Linked DNA regions of Homo sapiens. The protein of the gene in region 1 purifies or fractionates together with the protein of each later gene. This does not show direct contact. Each region holds a gene or a part of one and is shown on either strand. Other genes may lie near its edges.

What was found.
Region 2: the proteins of ACOT12 (region 1) and TLR5 purify together in Homo sapiens (affinity purification with mass spectrometry; one large-scale study listed by BioGRID and IntAct). This does not show direct contact.

Annotation. Positions count from the first base shown.
Region 1 is NC_000005.10:81,332,316-81,335,134, forward strand, and holds part of ACOT12 (acetyl-coenzyme A thioesterase), read right to left. Parts: intron 291-2,819; coding exon 162-290; intron 1-161. UniProt on the Homo sapiens protein: Catalyzes the hydrolysis of acyl-CoAs into free fatty acids and coenzyme A (CoASH), regulating their respective intracellular levels. Preferentially hydrolyzes acetyl-CoA.
Region 2 is NC_000001.11:223,140,449-223,144,685, forward strand, and holds the start of TLR5 (toll-like receptor 5 precursor), read right to left. Parts: upstream 2,801-4,237; 5' UTR 2,748-2,800; exon of another isoform or gene 2,213-2,747; intron 1,316-2,212; 5' UTR 1,200-1,315; intron 1-1,199. UniProt on the Homo sapiens protein: Pattern recognition receptor (PRR) located on the cell surface that participates in the activation of innate immunity and inflammatory response.

The DNA.
Region 1 (2,819 bases):
AATTTTTAAAATAATAGCTAAAGATTCATCTAGGTATAATTCAAATAAACATAATTCAAGAGCAGAAATATCTACACAGACTTCATTATTTTCACATCAACTTTTAATTTCTATCCTATACTATGAAATATTAATAGAACACTTGGACTGCATATACTCACCCATCTTTGAGGGGTTTTCTTCGTGATACGAGTACTACCAAGTCTTTGGGTTTGTCATCATTCAGTATAGGACAGGTGATGTGATACAGCTGATCATCTTCACTCACCCAGTCTATGACTTCACAGGACCTGTGTATATAGAACAGTGAAAAGCAGGTATACTTTCTACCTGCTCAGGCATTCACTTCCCTTATTTGCTTACATAATCTCATTATTTGTATCCATATTTGCCCCTTCAGCTCACCTAATCATCTCCCTAAAAGCCAGCATTATTGCTCAAGTCTGCCTTTAGAAGAGCTCTTTGAGGGTAGGCACAGTGGCTCATGCCTGCAATCCTAACACCTTGGGAGTCTGAGGTGGGAGGATCACTTGAGGCCAGGAGTTCAGGACTAACCTGGGCAAAATCTTGCAAAACCCTATCTTTATAAAAATTTTTTAAAAAATTATTTGAGTGTGGTGGTGCATGCCTGTACTCCCAGCTACTCGAGAGGTTGAGGTGGGAATATCACTTGAGCCTGAGAGGTTGAGGCTGCAGTGATCCATGACTGTGCCACTGCAGTCCAGCTTAGGTGACACAGTGAGATCTTAAAAAAAAAAAAAAAGCCACAACAAACAAACAAAAAACGCAAGAGCTCTTTGATCAGAAGGAATAATTCTGCAAGTGATAGAGGATGGTGGCCATCTGACTTCAAGTTCATAATTCTCAATACTTCAGTGAAAGGCATTGAGCTGTTTTACACAAAATTATTTTTCTCCAGGATCAAGTAAAAACATTGTGAGGACTGGTAAATCATATAGTCAGTCCAAGAAGGATTGTTTATATAGATAAAGAAATGTGGTATATTGGAAACCGCACTAGCTTTGGAGTCACACAACTTTCTTTTGACTCCCAGATTGCCACTTACTCGCTACATAAGTTGCGTTAGGCAAGTCATTTGATTTTTTCATCTGTAAAATTTAGATAATGATACGTGGGGTTATTGCAAGGATTCAGTGAAAACACCTGGCATAGTACCTGAATCATAGTACATGTACAAGAAAAGTTAGTTGGATTAGAATTCATTCATTCACTCCCCAATTTGTTCAACTTCAATTTGGCTGGAATGTCAAGTGACATAGAGATAGTGGGAGAAACATTTTTAAAGCATAACACCAAAGTTTAGGCATTGTTATTCCTAAAAGCTTGTACTGGTAGAGTATCTACTAAATTGATGCAAGAAAATTGAGAAGTGTTCCTCTTCTCTCAGAATGATTTATTATGATAGCATTAACCACGATGTATCATTCTGATACAGGAGGTGGGCAGGGAAATGTTGGGTAGGGAAGGGCAGGGTCCCTGGTGAGGGCTCCACCCTCGGGCCTGTGCCCACAGACCTAAATGAGGACAGGCATTTCTGTTTTCACACCCCAAAAGTTACCTTTTGGCCCACTGCACCCCACATCCTGTGCCCATAAAAAACCCGAGACCCTAGCGGGCTGGATGTTGAGAGGAACAGAGGAGCACACTGCCAGACACCAGCAGACGCTGGCAGACCATCGATGGTGGAAAGACATGGAATTCAGTCAGGGGTGGTCAGAGGAGAGTCTGGTGGCTGGGCAGCCTGACTCCAGAAGAAGACCACCTTCCCACTCCATCCTCCTTCTGGCTCCCCATCCATCTTGCTAAAAGCAACTTCCACCACTCAATAAACCTTGCACCCATCCTCCAAGGCCACGCGTGAGCCGTTTTTTCCAGTACACTAACGCAAGAATCCAGGATACAGAAAGCCCTCTGTTCTTGCAATAAGGCAGAGGGTCTGATCGAGCTGATTAACACAGGCTGCCTGCAGACAGCAAAACTGAAAGAGCGCATCGTAACACACACCCACCGGGGCTTCAGAAGCCATAAACAGTCAACCCTAGATGCTGCCGTGGGGTCAGAGCTCAAAAACACTCCCCACGACTTAAGCGACTTAAGCGTCTGCATGATCCCTCTAGGGGTTTGAGCAGCACGGAAGAAACAAGCCACACCCTTGTCGCAGGCCCTATGAGGAGGATAAGGGAACTCCTCCCATTTCAACTCTAGCATCTGTGCCAATGTAACACGTGACCTCAGAGATGTTTCACTTTAGTGGTATTAAATCATATGTTACATGGTATTTCTAAATCTCTATCACAGTGAGTTTTAGAAAATTTGAAGATGAGCCTCTATCTTGTCAAGATTAGGAAACGCTTAACACATAGGAAGCCCATCTCATCAACTCTTCCGTGTCAACAAGGTGGGCCATGAAGCCCTGCGGGGTGCTATAGCCAAGGTGGCTGGGCCCCAGTGCAGCTGGTCTCTGTCAGTGCAGTTGGCAGGGTGCACAGCTCTGTACTGTGTTCCAGGAAAGGGCTGGGGAGTGGAGGAGATTGGATTAGGGATGCAGGAGACAGGGAGTGGCAGGAGTGGGAGATGTAGGCTAATAGGAGCAGGGACATCATCAGGAGGGGGAGCAGGAAGGCATGCCTTTCACCTCGGGGCTCACACAGCTTGCTCTCTTAGCTTCTCACCAGGGAGGGTTGCTTCACAGAAAAGTAAGGAACTGCCAATGAAATATTGAGAGTATGCAGGACAATTGGATAATCACTTCCTCAAGAGCAATGAGGTTGCATATTAAAGTAGAAGAGTGTAGAATT
Region 2 (4,237 bases), on another chromosome or scaffold:
AGGCAGGAGAATTACTTAAACCCAGGAGGCAGAGGTTGCAGTGAGCCAAGATCACACAAATGCACTCCAGCCTAGGTGACAGAGTGAGACTCTGTCTCAAAAAAAAAAAAAAAGGCATGGTTAGAATGCTATAAGAAGGGCATCATGGCTGGGTGAGGAAGAGAGTGGCAGGACCCACAGCCAGAATTCCCGGAAGGCAGGAATTTGAATTGGCTCTGGGCAGCAAGTGCCTTTCATTATTCTGAGCTTCATATATCCTCATGCTTCCTTTCCTAGGCCTGGCCAAGCCCTTGATGGTCATTCTTAAGTCAAGCTGAACACCAGCTGGCTCTGTGAAGCTCTCTCTTCCTTTCCCAGTCAGTCTGCACTAGCTGTCTTCTTTGAGCTAGCAGATGCTGCCACATACTTTCGCACTTAATTGCGCTCTAATTGTTTCACAGGTGCTGGTTTTGTCTTCCTACTTAGACCTAGGAGCTTTTGGACAGCAGGGACTATGCCTCAAACTTGGGTTTGTCCCAGAGAGCGGAAGACACTATACGCTGTTGCTCTCACATTAAGGGACCAAGGCTGGGAATCACTTAAGCTTCAGAAATCTGATTGAAGCTTTGGATCTGCCTTCTGCATTCTTTTCCACAATGTTAAGAGTGAAACAAACACATCTGGATGCAGTAACTGGACATTCCAGTGCTGTCTGCTGTTTAAGTCTGTTAGTATACAGAGACAAATAAACAGGAGAGTTTTGCTTTCAACACTCAGCAGAGCCAAACTTCCTGATGCACGGGAATGAACAACGGAGGCACTGTTCTGGAAACACCGTCCTCCAGAGAGGCGCTCCCTCCTCAGAAACAACACCGAAAACCTGGCATGGCTGGTTTTGCATTCAGACAATGGCACCTACATGCTTTTTGCTTTGCTCAGAGCTGTAAATATCCAAAGAGGTGATCCTCTGCCATCATTTTGGAAGGAAGAATCAGTCAGACTGATAATTAGGGTCATACGCACAGGCATGGTCATGCTGATTGTTGAAATTTAGATTATTTTTGGCCCAGCACAGTGGCTCACACCTGTAATGCCAGCACTGTGGGAGGCCAAGACAGGCGGATCACCTGAGGTCAGGAGTTTGAGATCAGCCCGACCAACATGGTGAAACCCCATTTCTACTAAAAATACAAAAATTAGACAGGCGTAGTGGTGGGTACCTGTAATCCCAGCTACTTGGGAGGCTGAGGCAAGAGAATCGCTTGAACCCTGGAGGCAGTGGTTGCAGTCAGCCGAGATTGTGTCACTGCAGTCCAGCCTGGGCGGCAGAGTGAGACTGTCTCAAAAAAAAAATTACATATATATATATATATATATATATATATATATATATATAGAGAGAGAGAGAGAGAGAGAGAGAGAGAGAGAGAAAGAGAGAGAGAGAGATTATTTTTGTACTGCTTAGTAATTAGCTTTAGCACGGTCTCTCCTCTGGGACCTCCCCTGGAATTTCCCCACAATCCAGTAACTGAATAATTAGCATCCAGCCCCACAGAACTTCTCCCAGGGCCCTGCTCCAGGGCTTCCCTTCTGACTGGCTGTGCATGGCACACTGGGAATTGTTTTCTGCCCACAAGAACAAGGGTGAACTGAGTCAAGGAGTCCAAGAGATCTTGGACGCACTTCTCAGAATTCGGAGGGGCTGGGTAAATGCAGGAGAAAATTGATGAAACCACATTGGCCCTGCAAGAGCCTGACTGCTCCTGCACGGTAGCTACCCCTAGCATTAGCGGGGAGTCACCAATGCCTCTTCCAGGCACTGAGCAAGAGGGCGGCATTACAGATGCACTTGCCGTCCAAACAGATCATCTCATTGACTAGGTGACTGCTCAGCAACAGTATCTGAAGGACACTAGGGTTACTCTGCTTGTTTGCAGTTCACGGTGCTGGACGGATGTGTTCCCAACACTAGGTAACAACACCGCTCTCCCTCCTCCGGGAGAAAGCCGCAGCCGTCGATTCCCACCCAACAGGGCCTCAGCGCCTTCCCAGGGCAGCACCCTCACTCCTGCAACCACCAATCACCCAAGCCACAGCATGGTCCCAGACCCACCCTCGCCCCTTAGGAAATGGCTTTCCAATTGTGTTTTCACAGGAGCATGGCCACTGGGCAATGATCTTCACAGGCAGGCTTTTTTTTCCCCCTCTCAACATAAAGGCCAGCAATATTTACCACGGAGTCTTGGCCAGTGTGCACTGCCTGGTGCTGTGGGGTGGGGTGTTTAGGGCCTTTTGTTGAGCAGCTCAGTGACTTTCTGGGATTTCCATGGCCCTGCTGGAGATGGCCCTCTGTCTCCCTTTTCCAAGGAAGAAAGTGACTGGGGACAAGCCACCTGCCTCTTCCACAGGGTGGGGGCGAGAGTGACAGCGAGACAGCACAAGAAGGACCCGCTCTGTTTCAAAGCGAGGATGTGAGTGACTTCGTCTGTGCCGAGGTCTCTTCGTCTCCAACCTGCCGGGCACAGGGCACCCACATGACACGCTCACCCCGTCCCTGGGCCGAGGGACCCCACGTCTCGCGGGTGCCGCGGGGCAGAGAGCGCCGCCTAGTGAGGCGGCGCGAGTTGGACATAGACTGGAAAATAGACCCGGACAGCCCGGGAGGAGGGCGGAGAGGAGTCCGACCTCCGCAGGCAGCCGCGTCCCCGCCCCGCGCTGCCTACGACTTAGGGCCCCCGGCCCATCCCCTGCCGCTGCAGGGCGCTCACCTCTGGGACGCCTCCCCGCGCCGCCTGCGCCACGGTTGGCTCCTCCCGGACGCAAAAGCGGCGCCCTCGCTCGGGCTCCTGAAAACCTCGCGGCCCCGCCCACGGAAGGGCCCGCCCACCTGCCAGGCCACGCCCCCGTCTCGGCCACGCCGCAGCTCAGGGTTTTCTCTGAGGGCTGTGAGAGGCTAGGCCCGGGGAGAGGAGGCAGAGGTTATGCTCCGGTCTCTGCAGACTTCCACAGTGTCTATCGAGATCACACATGCCAGCATTGCCCCCTCCCATCCTCTCCTCATCGTACGGAGGAGGAAACCCAGGCCGAAGACCTGAAGTGTCCAAAAGCACAGCCAGGCCAAAGAGAAGCACCATCCCATGTTCTCCCACTCCCACTCCGGTGCTTCTTCAGGTAGGCTAAACTTCAGGCTAAAATGTGAAGATCACAGTGACACATTCCTGTCAGCAGAATCTGCTGCATATGTTTGGGAGCTGGGGTGTTTGGAAGCTCCGATTTTGTGTGGAGGACCCAAGAGAGAAGACAGACCCTTCCTGTCCTATAAGAACAGTGCTCCTCCTGCCCTAACTTCTCTTTTCCTTTTTCTAACTCCCTCTGCCTATGGGGTTTGCTGAAACTTTCAGGAAAAGGGACGTGTCAAAAGAAAGAAATGGACACCCCAGAGGCCGTGCAACCACAGGGTTAAAAGGAGGTAGCCTTATGAGAAAGCGGTGGAGTGGCTTTCTGGGGTGAAACCCAGTTCAAGGACAGAAATAGCACTGTCTTGAGTTAAGACTGGTGGTGGGGGAAGCCTGGGGGTGGGGCGCAGACTGCAGGCGGAGGAGCTCCCTGCCACCTGCCACTTGGGGTGTAATCACAGAGCAGCTGACACTCCCCACTCACTGCCTGGAGGAGCTTGGCGGTGGGATCGGGCAAGGCGGGAAAGATAGGTGTAAAACAAAGCCTGGCACTTAATTACAGTGCAAAGATCTCATTATAGAGTCTTCTCAGCTCCCCTCCTCGGCTGGCAGCTTGAAGCCTGAGTGACAAATTGCCTAGGTAGGTCTCCAAGGGCTGTATGTAGAGGGATGAAACCACCTCCCTGCCCACCCGAACCCCACTGTGGGGGCTGTGGAGAGGGAGGGGATGTTCACACTCTGGCATATGCAGGGGGCAGTGGGGAAGTCTGTAAGGGCACCTAGAAAGCAGTAAGAGCTGGGAGCCACAGTGGCCCTAGCCTGACATAAATAACACCTTGCTGGGGCAAGCCCAGTGTTCCCTCTTTTGGTAGTGGAACCGAGGGCAAGGTTGGGGACAGCTTGACGTGTGGCACTGTTTACTCTGCATCATAGGTGGATGCTGCAAGACCAGCAGGGGCCTGGCTTATCATGCAACTTTGTGAATATGTGGGAGAGAGGAGCCTTCCAGACGGTGTTATGGCCTCCCAGGAACTCCCAAAGCCCCCTCCCCAGGGTGGCATCTGGTTTTGGACACTGGTTTC